Regions from separate parts of the Homo sapiens genome. Here region 1 is linked to region 2. The links come from fine-mapping of genetic effects on gene expression. Tissue or cell type: whole blood. Region 2 holds a variant in brackets; the other region holds the start of a gene. All regions are shown on one strand. Distances are between the middles of the regions.

Evidence for each region. PIP is the estimated chance that this variant, and not a neighbour inherited with it, causes the effect.
Region 1: ICA1 starts here. The variant in region 2 is fine-mapped to the expression of ICA1 in whole blood (TOPMed, PIP above 0.99).

Annotation. Positions count from the first base shown.
Region 1 is chr7:8,257,920-8,265,919 of GRCh38, forward strand. It overlaps ICA1 (islet cell autoantigen 1), which reads right to left and starts at 4,248. Exons shown (of 14, transcript NM_001136020.3): 1 at 4,175-4,248. ICA1-AS1 (ICA1 antisense RNA 1) reads left to right here and starts at 4,306. Exons shown (of 6, transcript NR_125740.1): 1 at 4,306-4,500; 2 at 4,661-4,907; 3 at 6,672-6,761.
Region 2 is chr7:8,127,374-8,135,373 of GRCh38, forward strand. ICA1 (islet cell autoantigen 1) reads right to left here. Exons shown (of 14, transcript NM_001136020.3): 13 at 500-769. Among named protein-coding and RNA genes, the nearest start is that of ICA1, 130 kb to the right of the region's middle. RefSeq lists a silencer at 6,291-6,340 and an enhancer at 7,051-7,180. The variant C/T (reference allele first, on the strand shown) is at 4,569.

The DNA.
Region 1 (8,000 bases), 130 kb after region 2:
CCCTTACTTGTTGACTTTTGTACACACATACACATGGTTGGGAGTGGGGAACGCTCTTTCTCCCCACTCCCAACCCTTATTTACCTGCTGAATTCCTACTGGTTGTTTCAGGCTCAACTCAAGGGCAATCTCCTCCATGAAGCATCTCAGGGTTTCTCTGCCCTTTCTCCTGTTGGGGTGGGATGCCCCCGCCCTGGGCTGCATTACCACCTGTGTCTCTATCTCCTTCTTGCTTTCCCTGAAAGGCAATTGGTTAGTTGACTCCTCTCTTTCCCTCTTTTACTCAGCTGTACGCTCCTCCAGAGCATGGTGGGGTCTGAGTCTTGGGATTCTGAGTGTTTAGCACAGTGTGTAGCTCATGGCACATATACAACCAATGCTTGTTCAATACTAAGTCATCCCACTTCTCTGATTTGGTCAAAGGCCTGATGGATGATGTCATCTGACTTAGCAAGAGAGACAGATGATTCCCATCATGAGTGATGCAGGCCATCATTTCCCCACCTTTTCATGAACTCATTCTAGCTCACTAGGTTTACACTGGGACAAGGAGTTACCACTAATTGAGGAACTGCCACTTCTCAGACACTGGGGTGTATGCTTCACCCACATCACGGAGTATCCTCGCAATACGGCCAAGTTGACATAATGATTTATATTCATTTCACGAAGAAGTTTAAGTTCAGTTATCTTAAGCAACTGGCCTACAGTCACATAGTAGGCAGGCTTTGTTATAAAAACAGGTATAAAATGCCCTATCACATGTAGTCTTCCCTGTCCTGGAGAGATTCATTAGTTATTTGTGAAAATTACTTACAGGTCAAAAAACAAAAACTATGTTAATTTGATGCTATAATACTAAATAGTAAATTGCTAGAATAGTGAAAGTGTGGTCAGCCAGGATTTTTAGAGGCTCCAAGGCAGTTCTACCATATGCATCTATCCAGGGCAAATCATGCCTGCAGTCCTTATCAGACAGATGGAGATTATAATATCTACTTATCTCAAAGGGGGTTGAGTATCACATAAGATCATAGTTGCCAAAGTGCTTTGTGAAGGAAGAGGACAGAGGCTCATTTTAGAGTAGTGTGCTGGACAGTCTGTGGGAGACCCTAGGGATCAGAGCTACCTGAGATGTTGCTTAACAGCAGATGAAGGAAGCTTGACCGGGAATCCACACTTATTTTAACAAGCCCCCAAATGATTCTCTGGGACACTAAAGTTTGAGAAATAACAGGTTACAGCATTGCTTCTCAAATGTTAACATACTCATGGAGATCTTGTTAAAATGGAGATTTGAATTCACTGGGTCTGGAAGAGAGTAGCAGGCACGCTAAGATTTTGCATTTCTAATAAGCTCCCAGGGGAGGCCACATGCTACTGGTCCATGGACCACGTTTGAGTGACAGGGGCTTGGAAGATCTATCCCCACTGGAACAAATTAGATTTGTTTTGTTTCTGGTTGCACCCCCCAACTTCAGAGAGTGTTTTCCATAAAGCCCAGGGTCTTAGTATTGGTACAAAATTATTTGAACTACTCAAAACCAAATTGAAATACACTTCCTATCACAGGCAAAGCAGCAGCATTCTTTTTAGATACGGATAGCATATGTTTAGCATGTGAAAAAATAATTTATTACTACTGAGTGAGTCCTATTTAAAAGCGTGCAAAGCATTTTATATACATTATCTCTAATCTCCACCCTGCCCCTAAAAAGGTGGATATTCCTGTTCTGTAGATAAGGAAATGGTGACTTAAGTAACTTGGTCAAGGTCACACGGCTAGTTAGGTGTTACCGCAGGGATTCTGATTTTGCTCCATCAGGATCCAAAGCCCATGAGTCCTCCATACTCCCTCAGAGTGTTAGATATGATTGTGATACGAAATGTATCAGCTTGGGAATCAAGAAAAAAGCGGGGGAAAAGTGTTTTTTGAGTTTAAAGTTCTGCTGAGGCAGATTGCGAATGGTGGTGGGGTTGGGGGATAAGATTCATTAGTGATCTATGTTGCCTCATGGACAAAACATGCAGATAGCATCCTTATTAATGGTTCCCATAAATCTAGTAATGCAGATGGAAAAAAAGGACACTAGTGACCAGCGTGCTGATTATAAACACTGCCACCTACCCTCAGGCTCAACCAACGAAGAGGAAAAATTCATCCTGACACTTGGGGCCTGTTAACTTCCTCCCTCTCTCGCATGAGGTTTCTATAATCTTAAAAGTTCATACCAAACATAGGTTTATCCTTCTACGTTATGGCATAACTACCAGACCTCCATACCGCTAATGCTGCTTGCACCTGAAAAAAATGTACTATTTAGTCAAATACCTTGAAAACGTACTGATTTTGAAGGCTCTGAGTAACAAAATTTTCTATACTTTTCGTGAGATTGATCTTTATGCACTGCGGTAAAGATGCGTAGAGAAAGCAGTCAGATAGTTACTCAGGTGTTCCAAATGGGGGAAAATAGTTACAAAATAAACCACCCAGGCAATTACCATCCAGTATCTTTAGCACTCAATGATCCACGGGTGGAGGATACAGGGTTAACGTTTTTTAACATCAGGTCTCTCCACAAATAGCCCGCTGTAGCTTAACTGTTACGTTTTCTAAAGATTCATCTTTATAAACAGTACAATTATTTCCCTTTGTAATACAAACAGAAACAATTAGAAAGCAACATCTCCTGCAATTAAGATGTATGTACAGTATTAGTATAAAACCAAAGAGTGATATTTGAGCTATTCAGGATTATAAATTGATTTTGTCCCTGTGGTATTCTCTACAAAGGGTGTTTCAAAAATAAAGACTGAAATCTAAAAATATATCTTTGGTTTGAAAACTTACTTAAAAGCATTTTTAGAGAGTGTGTGTTTTAAACAGGGGGTATGAAATTGCATCGGGAGCCTAGATTTCAAACTAAGCATTTCTTATTTCACTCCCTAACCACAGAACAGTTCAGATCTCAGATTCAAACCAGAGGGCCACAGAAACCAATTTGAGATTTTCCGAAGAGACTTCACTGAAACGTATGGACAAAAACATGTTTGCGATGAGTCATATTTTATAGGACCTTAATGGCCAATAAATGCCTTATGTGTCTTTCTTCCTACATTCAGTATCACTCCCAAGCAAGCTGGTGACATATTTTCCAGGCCTTGATAATTTTTATACCGTTACCAGATCTCGGTTACTAAGATTCATGAACAAAACCCTTTCTTGCGCTAATTTTTTAATGCCATCTAAATGAAGAGAACGCGATTCTTTCCAAACTAACTCTCCCCAACCAGGCAGTTAATGCCCTTCGCCAGAATAAGGGCGCGATACTTTTAAGACCCCAAAGAGAAGCTCAGGTGCTTTGGGGGTACTACAAGTAAAAAGACAGTGGGAAAGGTTCCTGGAGAGCCGCTTTGGGGGAAAGGCAGACATAACAACAGGATATGTTCGTTTCTAGAGGAAGCAGGAGCTGCAATAGCCCCGGAGCAGGAAAGGCGGAGTCAGCAGCGCCCAAAGGAAACGGGCGCGCCAGGGTTTGCTGGAACCGGGGTTGCTTAGGGGTTCTCGCCCCGTCTAGTCCGAGACTGCTGAGCACCTCGCCCCCGGGGGACCAAGCTCAGGCCTCCTGGCACTAGTGGTTATAAAGAGGTACCCATATGCTCTCTGCCGCCCCTGCCAAAAAAAGGGCCACGGAGGGGAAGAGAAAAAGCACACACCAGGCGCCGCGGCAGGTGAACTTGTCAACAAGTCAACCCTGGACGCAAGTCCCTGCCCACCAGGGAGCTCGGGGTCCTGGGGCCGGAGCCGCCGGGAAGGCGAGGCGCGCGGTGGGTGGGTGGGGTGGGCTGGCATGGGTGCCGGTGCTCCCAGCGCTGGGGCCGGAGCGCGGAACGCTTCCCTACCGCTCCCCCGGGGCTGACGCACGCTCTCACGGCGCGCGCATCCTCCAGACCTTCCCAGGCCGGAGGGAGGAGGGGAGGGGAAGGGGCTGATGCGGTTCCCGCACCGGGATCCGGGACCCGAGGAGGCGACTCGCCTATCACGCGCCGCCCGCGGAGGGCAGAGAAGGCAGCTCCTACCAGGCGTCCCCGACCGTCCCGGCTGCCGGGCGTCTCCTGCTGCTTCCTGCAGCCCGCCCGGCGCGCCCCCGCCCCGACCCCGGAGGGCAGGTACCTCGGAGCCCCGGCCCCCAGGAGCCTCCCGGCCGCGGTCGGAGCGTCCCTCCGGATCACTCATCCGACGTCAGCGTCAGCCGAAGGCGAGGGAAAGGGGCGGGGGGAGCGCAGGAACCGGCCCTTCCTGCGGCGGCCGCCACCAGCCGGAATAGCAACCGGCGGAGCCCGTGCGCACCGCAGCGCAGCGCAGCGGCCGGGGGGTGCGGGCGCCCTCGCCGCCCGGCTACCTACCGCCGCCTGGGCGCCGCCGCTGCCTCCCTTCCCCGCTTCTACCCTCCAGCAGACGCCCGCCGGAGCGACCCCTCCCAGGGTGACCGGGGGAAGGTGGGTGGCGTTGACCTCACCTTGCTTGGGGAGGGTCGGGGACTCGGGGAGTGAGTTTCTCTCTCTCTACTCCCCGGGGTCTCTCCTCGACCCCCATCTCCTGGGGTATCCCCCGCTCGGATCCGCCGCCCAGAGTGACCCCGCCCCTGCTCTCCGGCAGGTGTTCCACGTGGCCATAGCGTTTGCGTCACAATGACCTGGCGGACAGGTGGGAGCCACAGCGTACACCCCAGGGTTCCCTCTGTGCTGTGCGTAGTGCCTACTGCTTGCTTCCAGGTTAAATTTCTGTAGCTTTAGAGGACAGGAGACTTCATGACTTCACTGCCAAGAAAAGTTACAGAGGCCTGCTGTACCTGGAAATCAAGTTTGAGCTTCGAGAATAAAGGTCATGTTTTAAAAACAGCTGTGTATGTATAGGTATATGTTTTTCATTTCCATATATTTCTGTATCTTTTATTTTTAAGTTATTGCCATTTGTAGCAGTTTCATCTTCTCTTATCCTTTGTCACCAGGAAAGAACCAAACCATTGTTTCTAGAGACCCTGCAGTATACAGATCACAGGAAGAAAAAGTGTTGGCATAGCTGCTTCCTAATATTATCTATGTGGAAATGAAACCTCAATGTAGTATGACTTCATCCCTAGTTATGTTATACATTTATAAATAAGTTCATTCAGTCGTCGCTGAAACAATTTAAAAGGGCCGAATGATAGTTATTGAGTAATGATGCTGACGAATCAGAAATCCTGCGCTAACATGGATGGAGTGCTAGCTCTATGTCCGGCACATGCTGTATGCTTTATATTTAATCCTTACAGCAACCCAATACTGTAGATAAAATCATTATCCCGATTTCACAGATGAAGACACTGCCCAGAGTGCCATAAAGAGATTATTGAGCAGGGATTTGAATCTGAACCAGGAGACTTAGCTTAATCTCAAGATAGCATGGTGTCTTGCCAGAATGGATGGAGAAAAAGTATAGAATATGTTGACATTTTAATAGAAAGATAATAAGATACCTCCAGAAATTTACATAACCTTTAAAGTTATTCTTTGGGGATTCTGTTTGTCATAGATTTGAGCCTGTCCTAGTCTTAACACGAATTTTGGAGCTGAGTAAACATCTCCTTAGTAAGTGTGTATGAGTAAACAAATCATGAATATGGTCTACAAAATAGCAAATTGTTGAAAAGCTAAGATTCAGGAGAAATTTTCAGAGAGAAAAGCATTGCTTATATATATTTGGCTTTTATAAAAAAAAATTCAAACTAACGTGTTAACAACGCAAGCCAAATGATTTTGCTGTAAGAAAAAAAACCCAAAGCCTTTAAAATGAGAAAGTCTTCCTTACAAAAGAAAGATGATTAAGATATGTTAAGATACATTGATTCCAAGAACTGTAAATTTATGTGTAAAAAGCTATTATCGGGAGTTAAAAGGATAAAGAGATTATTATTCTTTAACAGAATGAAGTGCCGTAATGAACATCATAGGTGCCCGATAAATGTTGACTGAGCGTTATCATCAGTTAATTGAAGCATTGAGAAAGGACTAAATCACCTGAAAAGTTTTTCCTGACTCTGTAATGTTCTCCTTTCTACCAGTTACATGAAAACTTAATCAGAAGCCCCATTGGTCAAAGGCTGGCTTTGGGGCAAATATTTAAATCTGTTACAAAACAGCCAGTAGAATGGGAGGTTGTGTGTGTGTTCAAAGTATCCCCTCAAAATGCAGATGATTGGAACAAAAGCATGAAGGGAAAAAACGGGGACAGCTGAGCTGCAACTGATTACGCAGTTTTCTTTTATGCTTTCTGAATTCCAAGGTGAAAACGATGACTGTGAGTCTAACCTGTTACAGAGGCTAAAAGTGGCTTCAAAAGCAATGTCTAAAAGAGAACAAATACATGATACAAGCATTATGTAGTCAACATGGCACTGAAATTCTTTGGGCTCCCGGAGAGTTTAGGAGAAAACCTTAACTGATTTTTCTTCATTCTAATTATTGTCCTAACACTTAGCATAATATTTGAGAAAGGAAATAATAGACAACTCCTGCTCATTCTCCATCACCACAATGAGTACTTTTCCTTCCCCTTAAATAAAATGGCTCCATCAATAACACTTGCATTTGTTTCTGAATAACCAGCTGTTGTTTCCATCTTGCAGAACACCAGTAAGGTGCTAGTGAGAACCCGAAACAGTTTCTAAGGAGAATGGCTATTGAATGATGGGATCAGAAATTAGGAGAGAAATAAGGTGCGTTTTCCAGTGTACAACAGGATGACAAAATTTTCTATGAAAAAAATCTTTACATATTCAATTCAATAATTTTTTCAAGAGCTTCCCAGATTCAAGATATGCTAATAGGACCACAAGAGTTGGATTTGTGTTAAGCTACTAACAGAGACTTGGAATAGCGGTGGATTAAATGAAATAGGGCTTTATTTTTTCTCACTTAAATTGGAAGGTAGGCAGTCTAGGGCTGGTGCGATCTCCACTGTGTCACTGGGCTGTTGCCCTTCTGTCATTCTATTCTGCCATCCTAGGCAAAGCAAGATTGCCCAAAGGTAAACCCAGGCGAGGATGTAAATTGGTGGTGGAAACTGCTGGTGGGAAAGTAAAATGGTGCAACCACTTTGGAAAACAGTCTGAAAGTTCCTTAAACGATTAAACATAGAGCTACCATGTGACCCAACAATTCCACTCCTAGGTCTATATCCAAGAGAAATAAAAACCTATGTCTACACAAAAACTTGTACACAAATGTCTATAGCAGCATTATTCAAAACAGTCAAAAGGTCAAAGCTGTCCTGCTGTAGACAAATGAATAAACAAAATGTAGTATATTCATGTAATGGAATATTCAGCCATGCAAATGAATGAAATACTGACATATGCTACAACTTAGACAAAACTTGAAACATTATGCTGAGTGAAGGAAGCCAGTCACAAATATATTATTCCATTCATATGAAAGTCCAAAATAGAGAAATCTGTACAGGCAGAAAGTACAATAGTGATCATTTAGGGCTGGAGAGAGTATGGGTGAATAGGGAGTGAGATCTAAAGAGTATAGAGTTTCTTTATCTTCTTTTTTTCTTTTTTCTTTTTTCTTTTTTTTTGAGACAGAGTCTTGCTCTGTCCTGCAGCATGGAGTGCAGTGGCACAATCTCGGCTCACTGCAACCTTCGCCTCCCGGGTTCAAGTGATTCTCCCGCCTCAGCCTCCTGAGTAACTGGGATTACAGGCATGCACCACCATGCCCAGCTAAGTTTGGTATTTTTTGTTTGGTTGGTTTTTTTTTTTTTTTTTTTGAGACAGAGTCACACTCTGTTGCATAGACTGGAGTGCAGTGGCACGATCTCAGCTCACTGCAGCCCCCATCTCCTGGGTTCAAGGGATTCTCCTGCCTCAATCTCCTGAGTAGCTGGGACTACAGGCATGTGCCACCATGCGCAGCTAATTTTTGTATTTTTAGTAGAGACAGGGTTTTGC
Region 2 (8,000 bases):
AACCAGAAGAGTGGATCTAGTGGGGGGTCCTCAGGGGAGAGGTGGATCAGGATAGAAAGGGAGCAGAAATGCAAGATAAAACTTAGTGTGCAAAAAGAGTGAAGAAGCCCCGTGCAATGTCAGTCAGCACCCAGGAAGAGGGCATGCTTATGGGAACGTGGTGAACTCAGGGCGGAGTGGCCAAGTCAACGGGGCCTTGACCATGAAAGCAGTTTGATCCTCTCAAGTATGCCACAAGAAGTCTAAAATCAAAGGATGACAATATGATTTAGAACCACTCATCTAACCTTTGATGCTAACACAGGGGAGAATTATGAAAAGGAATGTATTTTAAACCCTGAAACATAAAGTTGGAATGTGATTCTGAGTCTCCAGTTAAAAAGTCAATAAAAATAGAGAAAACATTAAAAAAGACAAAGAAGGAAGAAATATGCTTTTGGATTGAAAACAAAAAGAATGAACAAACAAAAAACCCCATTTCAATCCCCACCTTACCTACCTTGTAGCGAGGCCTGTAAGTCTTTCATATTTTGGTCTAAAAGCTGCGAAGGAAGGAAACCTGAGCCTGTCTGGGCCTTGGGGTCTGGCTCTCCCAGGGCCATAGTGGGCACTGGCTCCTTCACTTGGCCGTCTCCAAACACAGCGGCCCACTCTTTGCTGAACTCGCCCTCTTCCAAGGAGGAAGCATTGAAGATCTCACTCAACAGCAGCAGGTCATCTTTGTCAGCACCTTCAGGTTCCGGGGTCCCTGCCACTGGTCCCAGGCAAGCTGATTGAAGTAACAGAGAACAAAACGTCACCACGGAGGGCTCAAGCCCTCAGGAATCAATGCTGTGGGGGCTGCGAAGGGGGAGACTGGTTGATGGCTAGATTTAAGAAAAATGTCATCAAAATATAAGTTCATCCTATTATTATAGCCTCTCTTAAGAGTTTATAGAATTAAATTTCGAATCCCATGTTCCCTTGTCCCCTGTCCTCCAAAGCAAGTTCAGTTTCTGGGCATCAGACTCTAGGATTTTGGTTTTTCTTTAATATAAAAACAAATTTACCAAAACATTTCTCAGATATGAAACAAGGCCAAGATTGAAAACATGTTGGAGATCTTAGTTCCTTGTTTGCATAGCTTCCCAAATCTTCCCACGCAAGCCCTCAATACACATTGCCTGGGCTGGAACAGCAACACGCCATGTGGCAGCCTGTCCTGCCACCCAGGATGGGGAGAGAACTTTCACCATGCCCTGGCCCAGGGCACGACAGTGAAGGGGAGGATGTCCAGAGCTCAACAATGCCCAAGAGAGGCATCCTTACTTCCTTCCCACTTTGCTGAAACTCCATTGCATGAAGCAAAGGAAAAGTGGGTCTGGTTTGCCTAAGTGCCTTTTGCAGCAATAAAATAAAAGGGAAAGAGGCTGCGAGTCAGGGAGCTTCACAGGCTAGAGACACAGTTCGAGGGGCGTTGAAGTGAGCACCGGATCAGAGGGGAAGCCTCAGGTCCACCCCTTCGCTGCTATGTGACTTCGGTAAAAACCCTTAGACCCCCTTGAGCCTCTGTTTGCTCATCCACAAGGTTATCATGTTAATAACGGCCACCTCGGTGTTGTCAGGAAGACCAAAAGAAATACACTTTAAACCTAATTGCCTTTCCAGAAGGAAGGCTTTAAAGAAGGCAGCCATCCTTACATTACGAACATTGGCAGAATACTGAATATTGAATACAAGTAGCATTACTATCAGAAATCTTACACCAAGTCCTTTCACTGGGTTTATTACTTATTTTGAGAACCAAAGACTGATGGTGTTATCAACTGTGGCTTTGTGGTGGTATCTAACTGCCACTTGGAAACTATAAACATTTTTGTTGTTAATTCACAAAGAGAAGAAAAAAATCATGATTTATGTTTTTTTTCTGAGACATGCTGCAATTCTGATATGGTCATATTAAATGAGATGACCAGGTTTTCTTCAAATGTATAAGATAATTAGTAAGTAAAGGCTTTTTTTTTAAAAAAAAAAAAGTTCTCTGTGTTGGCTTTACTGGATCTATTTTCAATCACACTTTACATAAAGATCTAAAGATGAAGGGGATTTCTGATGTGCTGAGCAGACAGGCTATAAATCAGGGAGGGGAAGAATCTAGTCACTCTCATGTCCCTGTGGTTTAAAAATAGTGGCAAAACATCACTTTAGTCGGACAACTGTCTAATGTAAGCATTCTTATTGTTTGTGTTATCACAGAAATTCTCACTAAGAGCTAGCCTGTAGGTGTTGTGGGTGAGAAGATGGGGCAAATGGCATTTTAAACAGGCTTCTGAGACAGTGTGATTTTTTTTAAAATTATTATTATTATACTTTAAGTTTTAGGGTAAATGTGCACAACGTGCAGGTTTGTTACATATGTATACATGTGCCATGCTGGTGTGTTGCACCCATTAACTCGTCATTTAACATTAGGTATATCTCCTAATGGTATCCCTCCCCCCTCCCCCCACCCCACAACAGTCCCCGGTGTGTGATGTTCCCCTTCCTGTGTCCATGTGTTCTCATTGTTCAATTCCCACCTACGAGATAGAATATGCGGTATTTGGTTTTTTGTCCTTGGCGATAGTTTGCTGAGAATGATGGTTTCCAGCTTCATCCATGTCCCTACAAAGGACATGAACTCATCCTTTTTTATGGCTGCATAGTATTCCATGGTGTATATGTGCCACATTTTCTTAATCCAGTCTATCATTGTTGGACATTTGGGTTGGTTCCAAGTCTTTGCTGCTAGTGCCGCAATAAACATACGTGGGCATGTGTCTTTATAGCAGCATGATTTATAATCCTTTGGGTCTATACCCAGTAATGGGATGGCTGGGTCGAATGGTATTTCGACAGTGTGATATTAACAGGGTAGTTCAGGAACCACTTGAGCCTGCACATGGTGGGCGAGGCAGGACTGTAAGGTCAGGCAGGTGGCCCACCTCTGTGGATGAAGGCAGGAGCTGAAGGAAAGGAAAGCAACCTTCGCAGCTCAGGATGTGTCCATCAACACCTGTATCTACGCATGCTCCCCTCTCCAGCATCACCTTTTTAAGGATTATTAACATTACAGAACTCTATACTTCCTACTTTCAGGTAGGACTGGAATGCCCAAACCCTTTCTTATAGTTTACTTTTTGCCCTGACTGAAACCAGATAATTACTGAACCAAACCTATTCTATTGAAACCAAGTCAAGTCAATGTGTAGACCCTGGAGGAGCAGATAATTTCAAATGCACCTTGGAAATGACGTATGTTCCTTCTACAGTCGCTTTATACAGCCCTCCACTAAGTCAAACCCTCAGGGAGGCTTCACTACTTTAGTACAGATGTCTGTCCAGGGAAGATCATCATTAACATTAGCAAGAACAAATAATAAACTGTAAGCCTTCTAAAAATAACCACAGACTGTAATAGCTCCATCTTTGTTTTTATTGTTTAGGTTTTGTGCTATGGTGTTTATAATGGACTTTGGTGGTTTTTGCTAACTCAGCATCCCTTCCCTCTGCTTCTTCAGTTTTCCCTTTGGGAAAATGCCTTCTCCATGTGATCCTGGTGAGATGCCTCTGGAAATGACTCCTTACCCTCCACCCCAGTGAATGACTGATGAGGCTGGCCAGAGTCCTCCATCCCCCAGGCATGGTGATTGGCTCAGGGGTGGACACATGCCGGACACCTCCCGGAATTTGGTATATAGAAACTTAATGGAAGAGGGCCTCTCTTTCTTTGGGATTCCAAGCTCTAAAGATGCAAATTTCAGGCTCCCAGTGATAATGAAGTCAACACATAGAGGGAAACAGCCTCAAGAAGTGGAGAGAGAATCCTGACAACATTGTCTAAGCGCCTGGATCCAGCCTTGCTTGAAGCCAATCCACAACTGAGTGTCCCCATTACATGGATCAATACATTCTTTTTTGCTTTTAAAAATTTAAACCTAAACTATTTCAAATAGGGTTTTTCTATCACTTGCAATCAGAAAACTTTTTACTAATACATATCCTATTCAACTCAAACTTTTTAGTGACAGAAAAGAGAAAAGGACCCTTGGTGAGGATATTGCCTACAGCCAGTTCTAAATACAGATTTTGCCTACACTGAGGTCTACCAATGAATTTAGCCTTTTATTTGGCTTCTTGATTATTCAACAGCTAACAGGCCACACAGTGCACATTTTCTCTTTTAAGAGAACTTACTACTTAGCTAAAAGCAATGAAACTGGCACTGACTTGAACCATAAAACACAAAAACCTCCCAATTATTGCACTGATAATTAAGATGCTTAAAATTATTACACATAACACGTAAGAAAAATCTAACTACAAGTAGAAAAGGACGGGTTCAGGTCTGTAACCAGACAAGTTGAGACTTGAGAAATAGCTCTATAGTCAGTTGGCTCTTGAGAATCATGCTATCATTTTCTTTGAAAAAAATTCAACTCAACTGAGAGATAATGGAGACACATGCAGAGATGTGATAAGCTCTTTGGGAGAAACTCTAGTAAGAAACTCCCAACTGGAGTCAGGGCTTCCACCCATGCAGATGTGGA[C/T]TGCTTCTGGGTTATGGTGCCCCAATCCTGCTTTTGTGTTAAAGGATGAACAAGGGTTGAGGATCTCTCAGGTGCCAAACCCACAGATGCTACACCAAGTTCCCTTCACTCTCTTGCAGGCTCCCAAGTCTCTGTGTTTACTTGCTTACCAGATAACCTAACTACAGACACTGCTGCAAAAATAAGAGCCAACAGACATGACGTACTCACATCCTCACCTGTCTCCAACTCCGTGACCTTGCAGGCATTGCCTCTCCTTTCTAAGATAAGCCCTCTCTATGCCCTCCCCTCCTTCCTGAAGCCTGCTCTGTTCCCACCATTATTCAGATCCAGCACCTTTAGTCTTTCATTTTCCAATGCTTCCTTCCCCTAGCCGCAGGAGATGTGTGCCTATCTCAACAATAATCAGCCTTCACTTGATGTTGCTCTCCACCCTCCCCTCACACTTTCAAGTTACTGTTCTGGTTTCTTCTTCCTTCCACAACCACATACTCTACTTTGGCTCTACTCTTTTCTCAGCTGCCTGTAATTAAGTTCCTGCCCCCACCCTATACTGAAATAGCTCTCTTGAAGGTCAGCAGTGAGATCCTCATTGCCAGTTCTGAGGCTCTTTTCCCAGGCCTTTACCTGTACAGCATCATTTGTACCACTGCCCAGCCTGGAAATGCTGCTATCTCCTGGGAGTCCCCATGAGGCGGCTCTCTCGGATGACCTCCCATCTCCCTGACAGTACCTTCTCCACTGCCTCCTCCTATTCTGGCTGCCCTTAAGGTTTCATCCCAAACCATCATACCTTCCCTACATTCTCTATAGAAGATCTTTTCTATTCTTAGGGTTCCAATGTCACCTCAGAAGGTTCTCCAATCTCTACCTCCAATTCCAAGTTCTTTCTGGAACTCCATTTGCAAATTCCTGTCTGGGAGCCCTTCTGGGTTTGCCCATTGGTGAAGCTGCTGGTGCTCCATAGAGGAACCCTCTTACTGTGTATCTTTGCTTAGTCTGTGTTATGGTTTGCATATCTGTCCCTTCCAAAACTCATGCTGATATTTAAACCCTAGTGCGGCAGCTTGAGAGGTGCGGCCTTTAAGAGGTGATTGGGTCATGAGGGCTCTGCCCTCACAAATGGGTTAACCCATTCATGGATTAATGAATTAATGGATTATCATGGGAGTGGGATTGGTAGCTTCTATAAGAAGAGGAACAGAGACCTGAGGGAGCACATTCGGCCCCCTCACTATGTGATGCCCTAAGCCGCCTTAGGACTCAGCAAAAAAGGCCCTCACCAGATGTGTCCCCTCAGAATTGGACATTTTAGCCCCTATAACTCTAAGAAATAAATTCCATTTCTTTCTTTTCTTTTCTTGTTTTTTCTTTATAGAGTCTCACTCTGTCATCCAGGCTGGAGTGCAGTGGTGCAACCATAGCACTCCAGGCTTGAATGCCTTCTGAGTAGCTGGGACTACAGGCACATGCCACCATGCCTGGCTAACTTTTAAAACTTTTGTAGAGATAGGGTTTTACTTTGTTGCCCTCTTGGTCTCAAGTGATCCTCCTGCCTTGATCTCCCAAAGTGCTAGGATTACAGGCATGAGCCCTTTTCCTTATAAATTATCCAGGTGCCAGTATTCTGTTTTATAAGCAACAGAAAGCAAAGTTAGACAGGCTGGCTGTGAGATTACTCATTTACTCAAAGGCCTTCAGTGGCTCCCTGACTACTGGCTAAAGTAACACTCTGTCTAGTGGTATTCAGGATGTCTGCAGTCAAGCACGAATGCAGCCCTTTCAGCTACCCATCAATATAGCCATCTGGAAAGCCTTCATTCAATTTGGCAAAACTTCTCTACTTGCCATTGCTCAAACATATTCTGGGAACCTGATGATTTGTCCCAGTGAGAAAAATCATACTTTTTTTTTTTTTTTTTTTTGCAACCAATAGGAATCTTAGAGATCATCTCCTCTAACTCACTTTACAGATAAGGAAAAAGACCCAGGTTAAATAACCTACCCAATGACACAAAATTTATTAGTTACAGACAATCTTGCTAGGGACCCCAACTCACAGTCAAGGTGTTTTCTCACTGTAGCACTCTGCTTTTACTTCAGAACCTATTAAGGATCTCATGTATAAATTAATATTTAAGCTTTTGTAAAGTGTTGAGGGTTTCTAAGGTCAGATGGCTCCACTGGCAGCCAGGCACCATGCAGGCACCGTGGCAGAAAGGCTGAGATGACAGATCCATTCAGCATGTTTGCCCTGTACTGCCCAAGTTTTCAAAAATAAAAACCCTATGCCCCTGGGAGAACATTCCCTAGGAGAACTGATCCTGAACCAATGAGCAATATCTGTGTGAAAACTCACATAGAGAGGAAGCTCTTTTAAGTTTAGACACGGTGTGGGAAATTGGTGACAGCTCACTCAGGTGGTATTTTTGAACTCATACTGAGTTTCATGACCTCAGCATAAATTAGAACACAGAAGATGGAAGGAAACATAACTACATAGACCGAAAACGAGAGCACAGAAAAGCTGGCAGATAAATGTCACTTAATTTACCTTCATCTGCGTGTGAAACAGGAAGACTCCATCTCTCTGGTTTTCTCCCTCGTCCCCACTCTGGACATTATGACTAATCGTAAAGGCCACACGCTTGCAGTACAGATGAAAAACCCCAAACACCAACACTATCCTCACATCGCCCAAAGAGAGTAGGGGGAAGATAGGGAGGAAAACACCTTACGAAAATGGCTAACAAGAAAAACATATTCTATATTATAACAAACTGTACTTGTTTGGAACTCAAGAACACTGCTTCTAAGAACTTCGCTCTGATGAAAAATGATATAGATTATAATAAGAACAGAGAGAGGAAAAACAACTCCTACTCCCTGAAAAACAAAACAAAACAAAAAACAAACAACAAACCAACAGCACTGGACCCTGAGTAGGCACTAAAAAAAAAAAATTCTTGTTCATGATCCCTAAGCTTGCTACTCCATTTCACCAGTAGATGTTAGAAGACAAGTAATCTTACTGAAAAACATAAAACCTAGGGCAGGGATAAATATTTATAGACTCTTTATAGAATTTTTTTTATTTTTTTTTGAGACAGAGTGTTACTCTGTTGCCTAGACTGGAGTGCAGTGGTGCAATCTCGGTTCACTGCAACCTCCGCCTCCCGGGTTCAAGCGATTCTTCTGCCTCAGCCTCCAGAGTAGCTGGGATTACAGATGCCCATCACCAGGCCTGGCTAATTTTTGGATTTTTAGTAGAGACAGGGTTTCATTATGTTGGCAAGGCTGGTCTCGAACTCTTGACCTCAAGTGATCCGCCCATCTTGTCCTCCCAAAGTGCTGGGATTACAAGTGTGAGCCACCGCGCCCGGCCAGAATCTTTATAGAAATCTTTATAAGGGTAAATCTATAGAGAGCACT